Regions from separate parts of the Homo sapiens genome. Here region 1 is linked to region 2. Evidence: fine-mapped expression QTL. Tissue or cell type: tibial artery. Region 2 holds a variant in brackets; the other region holds the start of a gene. All regions are shown on one strand. Distances are from middle to middle.

Region 1 (8,087 bases), 41 kb after region 2:
GCCTGGGCAACATGGCGAAATCCTGTCTCTAAACAAAAGACAACCGTTTGTCTTCTAAACAAAAAATACAAAAAGGGTGCACACCTGTGGTTCCAGCTACTTGGAAGGCTGAGGTGGGAGGACTGCTTGAGCCTGGGAGGCAGAGGTGGTAGTGAGCCAGGATCATGCCACTGCACTCCAGCCTGAGTGACAGAGTGAGGCCCTGTCTCCAAAAAAAGGGTTCAACCTGATGTCTCCTCTTCAGTTAGCCATCCATGTACTGCAATCTACCACAATCTAGCTTCTGCCCCAGTTGCCGCCAACACTTGCCCAATCCCTCCCTTCTTTAGCTTCTGCAACCCAGTACTTTCTGGTTCACCTACCTCTCCGGCCCCTCACTCTCTATCATTATACATTTAATCAACAAATATTTATTGAGAACCTACCATGAGCTAGGCATTGTTTTTGGTGCTGGGGATACAGAGGTAGACAAGGCACGGCCCCTTTCCCTAAAGAGCCTCCTCTCTACAAGAAATATGACCAAGTAAATGGGCAATTCCTCTACACAGTGACAAATACTATCACGGGGGAGTACACAGCATGAGGGGCACTAAACTTTTCCTCAATCCACTTCCTTAGAATTCCACCCTGGAATTCTATATAACTTATTGGGTGACTGCATCCTTTATGACTAAATTTACTACAATTAAAATTGCTAGCAGCCAGGAATGGTGGGTCATGCCTATAATCCCAACACTTTGGGAGGCTGAGCCCAGGACTTCAAGGCCAGCCTGGACAACATGGCAAGACAACATCTCTACAACAAACAAACAAACAAACAAACAAATAAAATAACTATCCATATGCTGATTGTTATGGTCTGAATGTGTCCCCCAAAATTCATGTGTTGGAAACATATTCCCCAATGCCAACAGTGTTTGGAAGTGGAGCCTTTTGGGAGGTGTTTAGGTCTCAAGGGCTCTACCATCCTCACTAATACATTAATGGCCATATAAAAAAACAGAGTTTATCCTTTTTTGCCTTTCCACCTTCTGTCATATGAAAACACTGAATTCAAAGCACCATATTGGAAGTAGAGACCAGACCCTCACCAGACACCAAATGCTGGCACCCTGATCTTGGACTTTCTAGCCTTGGACTTCTCAGCCTCCAGAACTATGAGAAATACATTTATGTTCTTTTTTTTTTTTTGACACAAGGTCTCACTCTGTCCCCCAGGCTGGAGTGCACTGGTGCGATCATGGCTCACTGCAGAGTCGACCTCCCAGGATCAAGTGATCCTCCCACTTCAGCCTCTCTACAGGCACATGCCATCATGCCCAGCTAATTTTTTTACTTTTTGTAGAGACAGAGTCTCCCTAAGTTGCCCAGGCTGGTCTCAAACTCCTGGGCTCAAGAGAACCATCCGCCCCAGCCTACCAAAGTACTGGGATTATAGGCGTGAGCCACCACATTCAGCAATTTCTGTTCTTTATAAACAGTGTTCTGTTATAGCAGACTAAGATACTGATGACTACCAAAAAATTTCTATCTTCTAAACTGCCTACTGGATGCCTCTACTTGGATGTCCCCTAAACATCTTAACAGTTATCAATAGTTATTTCTAAACAAACAAACAACAACAACAAAAAAAACAGTGGCTTAGGCCTGTAATCCCAGCACTTTGGGAGGCCAAGGTGGCAGGATTGCTTGAGGCCAGGCACAGGAGTTCAAGACAAGCCCAGGCAACATATTGAGACCCCATCTCTAGAAGTTTAAAAAAAAAAAAAAAAAGTTGGGGCCGGGTGCGGTGGCTCACACCTGTAATCCCAGCACTTTGGGAGGCCGAGGCGGGCGGATCATGAGGTCAGGAGATCCAGACCATCCTGGCTAACACGGTGAAACCCTGTCTCTACTAAAAATACAAAAAATCAGCCCAGTGTGGTGGCGGGCGCCTGTAGTCCCAGCTACTGGAGAGGCTGAGGCAGGAGAATGGCATGGACCCGGGAGGTGGAGCTTGCAGCAGTGAGCCGAGATTGCGCCACTGCACTCCAGCCTGGGCGACAGAGCGAGACTCCATCTCAAAAAAAAAAAAAAAAAAAAGTTATCAACTGACATGGCATTCTCCAAACCTCCAAACACTCACCATCAAATTGCCCACATCAGAGGCCAGGAAGTGTGGCTCATGCCTATAATCCCAGCACTTTGGGAGGCTGAGGCAGATGGAGCACTGGAGGTCAGTTTGAGACCAGCCTGGCCAACATCGTGAAACCCCATCTCTAATAAAAATACAAAAACTAGCCAGGCATGGTGGCGCACGCCTGTAATCCCAGCTACTCAGGAGGCTGAGGCAGGAGAATCCCTTGAATCTGGGAGGTGGAGGTTGCAGTTGCAGTGAGCCGAGATCAAGCCACTGCACTCCAGCCTGGGTGACAGAGCTAGACATCATCTCAAAAAATAAAAAATACTGCCCACACCAGGAACTTGGGATCCATGCCTTCTTCCTTACCCCTACAATCTGAATTTTTTTGTTTTTTTTTTTTTTGAGACGAAGTCTCGCTCTGTTGCCCAGGACGGAGTGCAGTGGTGAGATCTCAGCCCACTGCAACCTCTGCCTCCCAGGTTCAAACAACTCTCGCACCTCAGCCTCCTGAGTAGCTGGGACTACAGGCATGTGCCACCACACCTCGCTAATTTTTTTTTTTTTTTTTGAGATGGAGTCTCACCCTGTTGCCCAGGCTGGAGTGCAGCGGTGCAATCTTGGCTCACTGCAACCTCTGCCTCCTGGGTTCAAGCGACTCTCCTGCCTCAGCCTCCTGAGTAGCTGGGATTACAGGTGCGCACCACCACACCCGGGTAATTTTTGTATTTTTAGTAGAGACAGGGTTTCACCATGTTGGTCAGGCTGGTCTTGAACTCCTGACCTCATGATCCGCCCGCCTCAGCCTCCCAAAGTGCCGGGATTACAGGCGTGAGCCACCGTGCCCAGCCTAAATTTTGTATTTTTAGTAGAGATGGGGTTTCACCGTGTTGGCCAGGCTGGTCCTGAACTCCTGGCCCCGAGTGATCTGCCTGCCTCAGCCTCCCAAAGTACTGGGATTAGAGAGGTGTGAGCCACTGCACCTGGCCCCCATTACTTTAATTTCTAAGGTATAAACCTGATGATGTCAATAACCTGCATAAAACTTGAATCACTCACAAGTGCCCTCAATAAAGTCCAACTTCCTTGGGACAGCATGCCCAGCCCTTCATGGTCCGGTCCCTATTTACATCTTTTTTTTTTTTTTTTTTTAAGACAGAGCCTCGCTCTGTTGTCCAAGCTGGAGTGCAGTGGCACGATCTCAGCTCACTGCAACCTCTGCCTCCCGGGTTCTAAGGGATTCTCCTGCCTTAGGCTCCAGAGTAGCTGGGATTACAGGCGCACACCACCATGCGCGGCTAATTTTGTATTTTTAGTAGAGACGGGGTTTCACCATGTTGGCCAGGCTGGTCTCGAACTCCTGACCTCAGGTGATCCACCAGCCTCGGCCTCCCAAAGTGCTGGGATTACAGGCGTGAGCCACCACGCCCGGCCAAATGCCTGTTTTTCAAAGGTCCTGTCCTCTCTCTTGCCTCTGAAACTTGCTGTTATCTTTGCCTTCCCTGTGCCTGGCTAAGAACTCCTGTTCTTCAGGTCCTAACTAAGATGTCCCCTCCTTCGCTGACTCCTCAGGTGGAGTTCGGTGCCTCTTCTCTGTGCTCCCCTAACACTCTGAGCTCTGACACGGAGAGAACTTCGGTCACTGGGAAGGGTGACCCGATCAACCCCACGGCCCCAGCCCCTCAACACTTCCTCGAACACAGTAACCTGCTTGAGAGATTAAGTGAGAAGTCTGTTTTAACAGGTTGCATCCTTCTCCTTGCAACCCCTGGCGCCCCACGTCGCAGTAGCAACCGCAGGCCCCGCTCAGAGGCTGGGGGAGGGGAGGCGGGCAACCAGTCGTGCAGGACTCTTCCCCCAGAAAAGATGAGGAAGGGACGGGGCAGGGAAGAGCTTTGGGTTCTCGGCAAGAAAATGTATCCTTGCAGCCGTCTCCATCAGATTCAGCCTCCCCGCTCCGACGCACCCTCCCCTCTAGGAGTCCCACTCAAACTCTCCACATCAGACTTCCTCAGAATCTTCCCATCAAGATTACCTCACGCTTCCCCCACGCGATCCCCTCTTGGTCTCAGCCTCGATCTCCCTTCCTCGCAGCCTCCTCCCTCAGCCTCGACTTCCCCCTCGCAGCCTCCTCTCCGAGCCTCTCCCCAGCGCCTCAGCCTCCCGCAGCCTCCCATCGGCGCTCCAGCCTCAGCCTCCAGGTTCCCGGTCCGGCCCGGCCTGGCCCCGCCCCCGCCGCGAGGACGGTGCTCACCGTCGTAGTAGTAACAGACTTTCCTCCGGGTGCCCTGCGTCTGCGCCATCTTGCTCGCCTCCCGTCCCTACCGTCAGTCGGTCCGTCCGCCCTCCCGCCCGCGGCTCCGCTCAGCGTCCGACCCAGGGGGGAGGGGGCGGGCCTCCGGCCCGCCCCGCCCGTCCCCTCCTGGGCTCACCTATAGCCGCGCAGCCCGGGCACCGCTCCAGCCAATCAGCTTGCGCAGACACGGGCCCGGAACTCGGCAGGGGGCAAGGGCAGCCCGGAGAGGCCGCCGAGGGCCCCCTGGGCCTGTACCAAGGTCTGCGACAGATGGGTGGGGAGCCGCCCGGGGACCGTACCATCAGTCCCGGGGGAGGAAAGCAGCTCTGTAAACTTAACAGTCCCACTTCGTCGTGAAAAGCGTGCTTGGAGATCGGAGGCCAACTTTCTGATTTTACGGAGAATAAACCGAGGCCTACAGGGGAAAAGTGACTTGCACAAGGTCACTCAGCCAATAAAAGGGCTGAACCTGGGTTAGAAAGCGAGTTTGTGGCCGCAAAGGAGGGCTACAGAAAAATAATTAAAAAGAAAAGCAACACGCGGGTTTGGAGAGGAAGAAACCGACAAGAAAGGGAAAGAAAGCTAATGTTTGTCGAGGGGCTGCTGTGTGCCAAGTACTGTGCGACACTTTACCAATGTTATTTCAGTTTTTCCTCAAAACAGCTCTCGGCCAAGGGCTTTTTACCTCCATTTTACAGGACAGGATAAAGAAGTTCAGACTTCTGTGAATTATTCAAAGTTACACAAAGTAATTAAATTCAATTTTTTAATTGTACAGGGTTTTTAAAATGCTTTCTTTGCACCAGAGGCACTGTAACAAAGTGACAGAACCCAGCCTTTCAGACTCCAAAATCTACCTCCCTGATGCAGTCACCCAGGATGACTAAGTAGGCGTCTCTTTAGACAGGAGGAAATGGGATTATCCTATGATAGGAGGGCAGGTTTCCTTTCTTTTCTTTCCCTGTTTTTTTTTTTTTTTTTTTTTTTGAGACAAGAGTTTCGCTCTAGTTGCCCAGGCTGGAGTGCAATGGTGTGATCTCGGCTCACCACAATCTCTGCCTCTGTGTTCAAGCGGTTCTCCTGCCTCAGCCTCCCGAGTAGCTGGGATTACAAGCATGTGCCACCATGCCCGGCTAATTTTGTATTTTTGGTAGAGACTGGGTTTCTCCGTGTTGGTCCAGGTGGTCTCGAACTCCTGACCTCAGGATCCGCCCACCTCGGCCTCCCAATATGCTGAGATTACGGGCGTGAGCCACAGCGCCCGGCCTAGGAGGGCAGGTTTCTCAGCCTGGTAGCTAATGACATTTTGGGCCAGGTAATGCTTTTTTGTAGGAAGCTATTCTGTGCATTAACAGCTTCTGTGAAGCTGTTCTGTGCCTGGGCAACTAGAGTGAAACTCTTGTCTCAAAAAAAAAAAAAATTAAGCAGCATCCTTAGCCTCTACCCACTAGATGCCAGTAGCACCTTCCCCCCAGGCTGTGACAACCAAAATTGTCTCTAGACATTGCCAAGTACTGTGCAATAGCTTTACCATTGGGTTGGGGGGAAGATTAGTGGGGTGTAAGGGAGTGTAAAATTGCCCCCAACTCTACCATTAAGAACCACTCCACCAGATCATCAATTATCAACTGATCATCACTGAAAGCTGAAAGACCTAAAAGTGCAATGCTGGGCTATTAAAATAACTACAATAATGTCAATATTTAATGAGTGCTTCCTGTGTGCCAAACATTGCTCTAAGTTAGCCGCCAACTTGTGGTCCTACAGTCAACAAGAGGCTGGGCACAGTGGCTCACGCCTGTAATCCCAGCACTTTGGGAGGCCAAGATGGGTGGATCACTTGAGCTCAGGAGTTCGAGACCAGCCTGGGCAACATGGCAAAACCCCATCTCTACAAAAAATAGAAAAATTACCCAGGTGTGGGGGCGCGCTCCTGTAGTTCCAGCTACTCAGGAGGCTGAGGTGGGATGATGGCTTGAGCCCAGGAGACAGATGTTGCAGTGAGCCAAGATCATGTCACCACACTCCAGCCTGGGCAATAGAGCCAGGCCTTGTCTCAAACAAAAGAAAACAACAAGATACATCTTTATGCCTCTTTAAAGAGTGTTTGGGACTTGTGTTTCTCACTCAGAAACTGCATTTGAGTCATTAATTATAAGGTAACAGAAAATCTAAGACTGGGTGGCTTATAATAGAAACAGCAAAGGGCCAGGGAACAAATTCTACTCCCAGTTCTCTGTTGCTAATTCTCAGCTAGCCCTGGGTGGGTTTACTTAACCATTCTGGGCCTCCATTTCCCTTGTTATAAAATGGGGAGGAGGCCGGGCACAGTGACTCATGCCTGTAATCCTAACAATTTGGAAGGCTGAGGTGGGCAAATCACCTGAGGTCAGGAGTTCGAGACCAGCCTGCCCAGCACGGTGAAACCCCGTCTCTATTAAAAATGCAAAAATTAGCTGGGCGTGGTGGTGTGTGCCTGTAGGTCCCAGCTACTTAGGAGGCTGAGGCAGGAGATTCGCTTGAAACCGGGAGGTGGAGGTTGCAGTGAGCCGAGATCAGGCCACTGCATTACAGTCTGGATGACAGAGTGAGACTCTGTCTCAAATAAATAAGAAATAAAATAAAATAACAAAAATGGGGAGGATAGGAATACAAAGTTCACCCACGCTATGGCTGTACACAGTATCCCAAAGAGAAGGAGTGTGGGGATCAGATGAGATCATGAGGTGTGGCAGCAGGTCAGTCAGGTGATAGATTTACATTATTATGACTCAGATGCTCTTTGTTTGCATATATATATGTATATATATATATATAATTTTTTTTTTTTTTGAGATGAAGTCTCACTCTGTCGCCCAGGCTGGAGTGTAGTGGTGCGATCTTGGCTCACTGCAAGCTCCACCTCTCGAGTTCACGCCATTCTCCTGTCTCAGCCTCCCGAGTAGCTGGGACTACAGGCACCTGCCACCAGGCCCGGCTAATTTTTTTATATTTTTAGTAGAGACAGGGTTTCACCATGTTAGCCAGGATGGTCTCGATCTCCTGACCTCGTGATCCACCCACCTCAGCCTCCCAAAAAGTGCTGGGATTACAGGCGTGAGCCACCACACCCGGCCCTTTTTTTGTATATTTTAAAAATTACAAAAAATAAATAAAATAAAAATTAAAAAAATAAAAATTAAAAAAATTAAAAATAAAAATTAGAGGCCGGGCACTGTGGCTCACTCCTGTAATCCCAGCAGTTTGGGAGACCGAGGCGGGCAGATCACCCAAGGTCAGGAGTTTGAGACCAGCCTGGCCAACATGGCGAAACCCCACGTCTACTAAAAATATAAAAATTAGCTAGGCATGGTGGCAGGCGCCTGTAATCCCAGCTACTAGGGAGGCTAAGGCAGAAGAATGGCTTGAACCTGGGAGGCAGAGGTTGCAATGAGCTGAGATCGCGCCATTCAGCCTTCCGAGTAGCTGGGATTGTAGGCACCTGCCACCACTCCCGGCTAATTTTTTGTATTTTTAGTAGAGACGGGGTTTCACTATGTTGGCCAGGCTGATCTTGAACTCCTGACCTTGTGATCCGCCTGCCCCGGCCTCCTAAACTGCTGGGATTACAGGTGTGAGCCACGGTGCCTGGCCAACATTTCCCTATCTTTCATCAAACACTCTGCCATCCTC
Region 2 (8,099 bases):
GCCTGGCAGCATTGTGGGTTCCCTATTGTGGCTGAGACAGAGAGCAGGTCATGACATCCTTCCCTTAGTGGCAAGCTGTGGAGAAGTCACGGTACTTTCAGTGAGCTGCAGTGGGGGCACAGTGCCTCTCCCCGTCCCAAAGCTAGCCCTTGCCTCCCACTCTGACCAGGCAGCCCCAGATCTCAACAGAAAATTCTGCCAGGGGATTCCTTACAGCCCTTGGCCCATGTTATCAAACCTCTCCAAGCCTTTTCTCACCCTCAGCTACTGGTAGCTGCTGTGTGCCCTTGGGCATGTCACTTTCTCTTCCTGAACCTCAGGGTCCCAGTCTGTGAAATGGGGCGGGGGTGGGGGGCAAGTGAAGCTGAGATAGCTGAGGGTATTCTGTAGTCTCAGGGTGGGGGTGGGGATGGAGGATACAGGAGTGAGTGCAGAATGCAGAAGCCACCTCAGCCCTCCCCGCCCCTCTGTGGTCAGATCTCTGGGGAGTTCCCAATTTCTCAGGCCCTGGGGTGTCTCCACACTTCACAGCCTCAGGCCTCCCAGGAGGCTTCACCGTAGGAGGGAGGGGAGGGACTTGCTGAGCTGGCTGGGACACAGCCTTGCATTTGCAACACTTTGCTTCCTTCCAGCCCCCATCCCTTTCCTCCTGGGGGCTGAGGGCTGGCAGCCGGACACAGACATCCGGGGCCGGCCAGGATTCTGGGGTTCCCACCAGCCTATCCAGGCCAGCAGAAGGAGAGGTGGCAGAGGACCAAAGCTAGGGAGTCTCCAGCCCGGAGCACCTCCGGGCTCCCTTGCTCTCAGGCAGGGTGGGAAGCTGGGCTGGGCAGCTTTGAGGGCTGTCCTCAAGGGGCTGTCCCTTGAAGGGACCCTTGGTAGCATCCTATCCCTCCCCTTCAGAAACTGGGGTGTTTTGAGGTTTGTTGAGTCCCCAGCTGGGGTTCCTCTGCCGGCCTGGGGCACCCTGATGTAGGGGAGCAGAGTTGTGTGTGGAGGTAAAGAGGAAGGACCAGAGCCAAGTCAGACAGGTTGTCAATGCCTCTGAGCCTTGGCCTTTCAATGGGGATGGAGATGCCCTTCAAGGTCACAAAGTCCCCCACGTGGGACTTTGCAGTGGGTCCAGGCTGAGGGCAGGAGGGGCTCAAGGCGAATCTGTCTGTCCCCACTCAGAATGACTGGCCACCAAGGGACTGAAAGGAGGAATGAGGGAAAGGCCTCACTAGTCCGACCAGAGTGACCCCGAGGCAAGGCAGAGCCCTCCGCTCCCCGGCTGGCCATGGCAGGCAGGCAGGGACGTGGGTGGGACCTCTGACCGCTCTCCAGGCCGGAGCGGGTGCCGAGCCCAGCGCAGGGGCCCTGCAGCTTCTATGACCACATTTCTAGAGTATAATTCAGGACCAGCCATCTGACGAGCCTGGTCGTGTGAGCCCTTCGAAGGGTTCAAGCGGGAGACTGCCAGCGGCTGCAGGACCAAGGCGTTGGGGGCCGCTCCAGGCTGCGGGGGCGCCCACCGGAGAGGTGGAGCGGAGAGGATGGAATGACTGCCCGTCTCCTTCCTCCAGGCCCCCCGCCCCGCCCCGCCCAGCTCGCGGGAGGACTGGCCTCGCTCCTGCCCACACCGGACTCTACCTGCCCCTGGGATTCGGGTGGGGTGGGGGGTACCCGACCGCCAGCGTCGCCTGCTGCGCAAGTGGGGCCTGCGAGCCAACCCCGCCTCCGCCCCTCGATTGGGCGCGCATTTAAATGTCCGGCCCCGCCCCGAGCTCCGGGCGCTTATATATAGGCAGCTCGGCGGGCGGCGGGCGGCATTCTGGCGCGGAGCGGAGCGGCGGCGGGCGCAGCTAGCGGGTCGGCCGCGGAGCGGAGGTGCAGCTCGGCTTCCCCCGGCACCCCTCCCCCTCGGGCGCCAGCCCCACCCCTCCGCCGGCCGGGCCGACCCCGCCGTACTATCCCCTGCGGCGCGAGCCCGGGGCGGCTCCAAGCGCCCCCCAGCAGACCCCCATCATGGGCAGCCAGAGCTCCAAGGCTCCCCGGGGCGACGTGACCGCCGAGGAGGCAGCAGGCGCTTCCCCCGCGAAGGCCAACGGCCAGGTGGGTACGCTTGGCCCGGCCGGCCCCAGCCCCTCCTCTCGCACCTCGCCCCTTCTAGGGCCCGGGGCCGGGGCCGGGGCCGCGCGCTTTGTCCGGCCCGGGACACGCGGCGCCCCCTCCCCCGCCCGGTCCCTTTGTTCTCGGCGCCGCAGCCCCCGCGGGCGAAGCGAGGGGAGGGGCGGGGAGGGGGCGCCGGCCGGGCCCTGCCGCCTTCTTTGTTCGCGGCCCCGGTCCCCGGCGCTGCCCCCCGGCCGCCCCGAGTGCCGCGCGGGGAACAAAGGCGCTGCTGGGCCACGCCAAGGGGGCGCCCAGGGGCCGCGGAGCTGGGGCCCGGCGGGGAGCGCACTCCACCCGCCGACCCGACCTCGGTGGCCCACGGTCTTTTTTTTTTTAAGGGGGAGCCGAGATGCGGGAGAGCCTGGGGTGGGTGGGGGCCACTTACACAAAGCGGGAGGCTGGGAAAATAGGCCGTCCAGGTGCAGAGAGACAGCGCCCCGGGGCGGCTTCCCGCCCAATGTCGCCTAGAGCGGCTCGCCCGCCTGCCCGGGATCCGCACAGCAGATCCGGAGCGGTTCCGCGCGGAATAGAGAGCGCGCCCCGGGGGACGGGGGTGGGGGCCACGGGACCCCAGCGCCTCCTGCCGGTCGCGCCCTCTGCGCGCTCGCTCCCCGCGCGCCCGTGAGGGGCGAGAGGGAGGTGTTTGACGGGATCCTGGGTGTGGGTGAGGCTGAAGCCAGACTTTCGGGTTGCAGTAGAATCGAATCGAGGACCCCTTCCTCTAGAAGGGATCAGAAGCGGGCTGGGGGAGGGGGAGCCCCTGCCCTCATTGCTATTCCCTCTGCCCTGCAGGAGAATGGCCACGTGAAAAGCAATGGAGACTTATCCCCCAAGGGTGAAGGGGAGTCGCCCCCTGTGAACGGAACAGATGAGGCAGCCGGGGCCACTGGCGATGCCATCGAGCCAGCACCCCCTAGCCAGGGTGCTGAGGCCAAGGGGGAGGTCCCCCCCAAGGAGACCCCCAAGAAGAAGAAGAAATTCTCTTTCAAGAAGCCTTTCAAATTGAGCGGCCTGTCCTTCAAGAGAAATCGGAAGGAGGGTGGGGGTGATTCTTCTGCCTCCTCACCCACAGAGGAAGAGCAGGAGCAGGGGGAGATCGGTGCCTGCAGCGACGAGGGCACTGCTCAGGAAGGGAAGGCCGCAGCCACCCCTGAGAGCCAGGAACCCCAGGCCAAGGGGGCAGAGGCTAGTGCAGCCTCAGAAGAAGAGGCAGGGCCCCAGGCTACAGAGCCATCCACTCCCTCGGGGCCGGAGAGTGGCCCTACACCAGCCAGCGCTGAGCAGAATGAGTAGCTAGGTAGGGGCAGGTGGGTGATCTCTAAGCTGCAAAAACTGTGCTGTCCTTGTGAGGTCACTGCCTGGACCTGGTGCCCTGGCTGCCTTCCTGTGCCCAGAAAGGAAGGGGCTATTGCCTCCTCCCAGCCACGTTCCCTTTCCTCCTCTCCCTCCTGTGGATTCTCCCATCAGCCATCTGGTTCTCCTCTTAAGGCCAGTTGAAGATGGTCCCTTACAGCTTCCCAAGTTAGGTTAGTGATGTGAAATGCTCCTGTCCCTGGCCCTACCTCCTTCCCTGTCCCCACCCCTGCATAAGGCAGTTGTTGGTTTTCTTCCCCAATTCTTTTCCAAGTAGGTTTTGTTTACCCTACTCCCCAAATCCCTGAGCCAGAAGTGGGGTGCTTATACTCCCAAACCTTGAGTGTCCAGCCTTCCCCTGTTGTTTTTAGTCTCTTGTGCTGTGCCTAGTGGCACCTGGGCTGGGGAGGACACTGCCCCGTCTAGGTTTTTATAAATGTCTTACTCAAGTTCAAACCTCCAGCCTGTGAATCAACTGTGTCTCTTTTTTGACTTGGTAAGCAAGTATTAGGCTTTGGGGTGGGGGGAGGTCTGTAATGTGAAACAACTTCTTGTCTTTTTTTCTCCCACTGTTGTAAATAACTTTTAATGGCCAAACCCCAGATTTGTACTTTTTTTTTTTTTCTAACTGCTAAAACCATTCTCTTCCACCTGGTTTTACTGTAACATTTGGAAAAGGAATAAATGTCGTCCCTTTAGTGGTGCTTTAATGAGTGGTCTTCTGGGGGTAGGGTGAGAAGATTGGTGGAAAGTAGTTTACCTCAAACCTCAAGGGAGGAGTTAAGGCAGGCAGGTAAGTTTATGGGGTTTTCTTGTTCAGGGGGTTGCCCCAATACTCATGGACACCAGAACGGCAGGGAAGTAGAGTTGAAACCAACCCAGGGACACATAGGAAACAAGCTCAGGAGGATATAGAAATGTACCATTTTATTAC[A/G]AAGAGGCTCACAAAAATGAAAATAGTATCTCAAAAAGGAAACTAGACTAGCAACCTCCACCTGCAGAATTAGGAGAAGACAGACAGAGGGCAGGCAGTGTTTCTTGGCTCACTTGAGGCCAGTGGGAAGGTACGAAAACAGAACCAATCTAAAAATGGCTGATGTTACTTTAGGAGCCTGAAAAAAACAGGAGATCCTTGAAGACCCAGCCACCCCTTCTAGAATGTTCAATAAGGGCACCTTTCCAAAGCTACTAAGCAGGCACTTGGCATTTCAGGAGTTTGTCTTATGGTTGCATAAAAGTATCCCTTTCACCCAGACCTGGCACCCTTTATGGTTCAAAGTTAAGAACGGGAAGAATGGGTGGCAAGGTGGCTCCTGGAAGAGCTCACCCAGCACAGCTGCCCTGAGCTCGGGGCCTTGGTTTCTGTCCCTGGGGATATTTATATTTAATAAATTTTTATATAAATACACAGAGAAATAGAAAATATAAAATCTGAGGGGTTGGGGAAGAAACGTGAGGGACTCAGCAGGAAGCCAGAGCTGGAGAGGTCCATTCAGGCCAACTTGACCTCCTCCTTGACCCTGTGGAGAGAGCAGAGACTGGCATGAGATGACCCAGCCCAGAGCCTCAGGGCAAAAGTGCAGACAGTGACTTCCACAGGATCCTAGGTGACTACTGGGGGCTGGGGCTCCTAGCTCTGCCTAGAACTGCAGAGCTGGACAGACTGGTCCCTGAAAGAGGCCTTTGTAAGCTGGACCAGCTGTCCCTGTGCCTTTCCTCAGAGTGGTGGGACAAAGGGGCTGGTGCTCCAATGCCAGGGAGATGGCCACAGGCAGCTCCTTCCTCACCCTTTGGCTTCTGGCTTCTCCTCCTTGGTTTTCTCCTCTTCGGTGACTTCTAGAACACAAGAGTACAGGGATGGCCAAGGGCAGCACCTCTGGGAAGACCCATGAGGTCTTCATTTACCCTGAGACCCCTTCCCCAACACTACAGCTCACTGGACATAAAGAGAGAAAAGCCCATCCCTGGTCCTCCCAGTGAGCCCTGTTGAGAACAGGTTGGACTGGTTTCCCAGCCTGCTACAGCCAGAACCTGGTGGGCGGAGGCAGCCCCCTGGGAAACTGGGGTGCAGTGCTGGGAAAAGGGCTGGGGTGGTATGTGAGAGCCGTGCTCAGGCAGTAGAGGTTCATTGTTTTGTGGGCTCTGCCACTTCTGGGAGCCACTGAAAGGCTCAAGGAACTGAGGAAGAGCCCCACAGGAGCTGGCAGGGCCTGAGTCACTCCCTCCTCCCACTGCCCTACATAGATTCATCCTCTCAGGCTCGAGACCCAAGTCCCAGCTGAACCCAAACCCACCTTTCTTCTCCTCTGGGTCTTTCTCTTTTTCATCCTCTGTTTTGACTCTCTTGGCTTTTTTGAAGTTGGAAGAGTTCTTGCGGCCCCCCTCTCCCTCCTCTTCAGAATCGGAGAACTCTTCCTCACAGGCAATTCGTTTGTCAGAGGAGCAGACTGGGAGGGAGTGGGAAGCATGGGTGAGAGGGCAGGCGGGTGCTGATTTAGCTCAGCATCTATGCCCAGTGCTTCCCTGCGTGTCCTCCAAGAGACACCAAGGGAAAGGGAACCAGAAGAGGGAGGAACTCGGGCTCCCTAACCTGTTCCTACAGGCACTGGAACTCGAAAACAGATTTCTCTACAGGTGGGGAGCTTGGAGGGAGTGTGCAGCCAGGAATGGTGGTGGAAGTGTGAGCTGCCTATTGAATGGAAGGCATAGGGCTCTAGGTCTGGGTCTCACTCGAGATGCGCTTGTCAGGGTCGTCTTCGTCCTCATCGCCACTCTCCTCAGGGATGGCGTCCTCAGGAATCGCCTGCATTTGGACCCCAGGTGCGTGCGGCAGCATTCTAAGGTTCTCAAACAGTCGCTGTCTGTGGCCAATGGGAGAGAGTAGCAGGGCTCTGGTCAGGGACAAACCAAAGTCAGGAATGTTCAACCAAGGGGTGGCTGGAGGATATACTCACTTGATCTTCTCCAGGTACTCATTCGTGTTCTGGTTAGTCATATTGGAAGGACTGATGTGGAGCTTGAAATCTGGTCCAAAGTATTCAAAGTAGTCATTGTATGGAAGCTCTGATTGGGGCAGGAGAGAAGACCGTCAAGAGACCTGGCCACCGCACCCTAACCATTTGCACGTAAGCACCCTAAAGCATTTGTAGGTTTCTCTGGGCCTATTTATCCAAACAGAGGAGAATGCCTCCAAGACACTGTGAGACACGGGTACCTATGGGATTTCCATCTTTTTAACATCACTCTCCTATGTCTGTACCAGTGGTGTATATGTCGCTAGGAGAAGGCCCATGTCCCTGGTTTAGGACACTTGAGGCCATGCTCATTATGAGCGCTCCCTTCACTCGCTACTCCAGTTACTCTACAGAGTAGAAATTCCAAAGCTGTAAATTACCAATGAGAACTTTGTCCAGACCAAAAGCAGGAGGGAGAGGGGAGAGAGCTAAAAAGGACTAGGGAAAAAGTGATGGTTATGGTCTGCTGATCACAAGAGGACAGGCAGGAGACTCAGTGACTAGTATCAGAAGAGGAGCGGTCATATGACCAACGGGGAAGGGGTTATAAACTTAAGGACAGATGAGCTCCAGCTCCCACCCAGCCCAGCCGAACCTGGCCCTGCAGCTATTACCATTAGGGATCTCCGTATCCAGGGCCACAGCTGTCTCATATGTCCAGCACCGGGCAACGTTACGAATGGTGTAACCACCGCCTCCCAGCATCAGCATAGGCAGGTTAAAGCTCTTGACAAATTCCACACACTTGGCGTGTCCTTTGGTGGGAGAAGGGGTGCTGAGTTACAGGAGCACCAAGCAGGACCCCGCCCACCCATCCTTGTGCTACCTGGTCTCACCTTTGATAGTTAGATTGAAGCAACCTAACCGATCCCCAGATAGGGAGTCTGAGCCACACTGTAAGACCACCGCACTAGGCTGGAACATCTCCATTACTTTGGACATGACCTAAAATGATACATCCTGGTCACCACCAACCTCAAGAAAGCAATACGAGGTTTGGAGTGGAAAGGCTGGGTGCAACACTTTCCCACCCACTCCTACCTTTCCACTCTCCCTCATGCTATGTGGGAGAGAAAAGGGAGTGCTAGGCTGGAGCCCTTGCTTGCCCACTTGGGATTTCAATTTTCCAATTTAAAAAGTTCTCTAAGACCCTTCTAACACTCTAGTAACACTGAACCTAGAATGGCCTCCCTCTCAACTCCCTAAGTCTCTTCTGTTGCCCAAGCTCTAGTGCCACTTCCTCCAGGAAGCCTTCCTGACCTTTAGCTGCATCTACTCTACTCATTCGGTCTTACAGACTTGAAGCCTTACATTATGAGCAAGCACTTTTAGTTTATCTTATTCTCACAAGCAGAGTCTAACGTTACTGAGACCGAGACCACAACTCCCACTTCTGTAGCCCTTATTAAATACTAGGCACATAGTGGGCAGTCAGTGTTTGCTGAATGACTACCTGACCTTATTAGGTTAAGCAGTTTCTTACTGTTTATAAGTGAAGATTTAACTCCTTGGCATGGCATTCAAGGCTCCCTTTGAAATACTGAGCCCAGCATACACTTCCCACCGCCTCCTTCAGCACTC

The links. PIP is the estimated chance that this variant, and not a neighbour inherited with it, causes the effect.
Region 1: it holds the start of HDAC1, and the variant in region 2 is fine-mapped to the expression of HDAC1 in tibial artery (GTEx, PIP 0.99). The same link has a PIP of 0.9 or more in testis and whole blood.

What each region holds. Positions count from the first base shown.
Region 1 is chr1:32,288,505-32,296,591 of GRCh38, reverse strand. It overlaps HDAC1 (histone deacetylase 1), which reads right to left and starts at 4,509. Exons shown (of 14, transcript NM_004964.3): 1 at 4,374-4,509. The coding sequence starts at 4,422. RefSeq lists enhancers at 3,070-3,644, 3,716-3,775 and a silencer at 4,386-4,795.
Region 2 is chr1:32,329,942-32,338,040 of GRCh38, reverse strand. HDAC1 (histone deacetylase 1) reads right to left here. Exons shown (of 14, transcript NM_004964.3): 8 at 7,355-7,463; 9 at 7,133-7,273; 10 at 6,459-6,567; 11 at 6,235-6,365; 12 at 5,799-5,951; 13 at 5,292-5,340; 14 at 4,415-5,024. The coding sequence ends at 4,997. MARCKSL1 (MARCKS like 1) reads left to right here and starts at 1,808. Exons shown (of 2, transcript NM_023009.7): 1 at 1,808-2,094; 2 at 2,944-4,202. The coding sequence starts at 2,008. The coding sequence ends at 3,444. It overlaps LOC124903949 (a long non-coding RNA gene), which reads right to left and starts at 2,664. Exons shown (of 2, transcript XR_007065661.1): 1 at 2,537-2,664. RefSeq lists silencers at 435-563, 1,497-2,026, 2,047-2,196, 2,327-2,406, 2,547-2,986 and 1 more and enhancers at 1,227-1,316, 1,586-2,155. The variant A/G (reference allele first, on the strand shown) is at 4,439.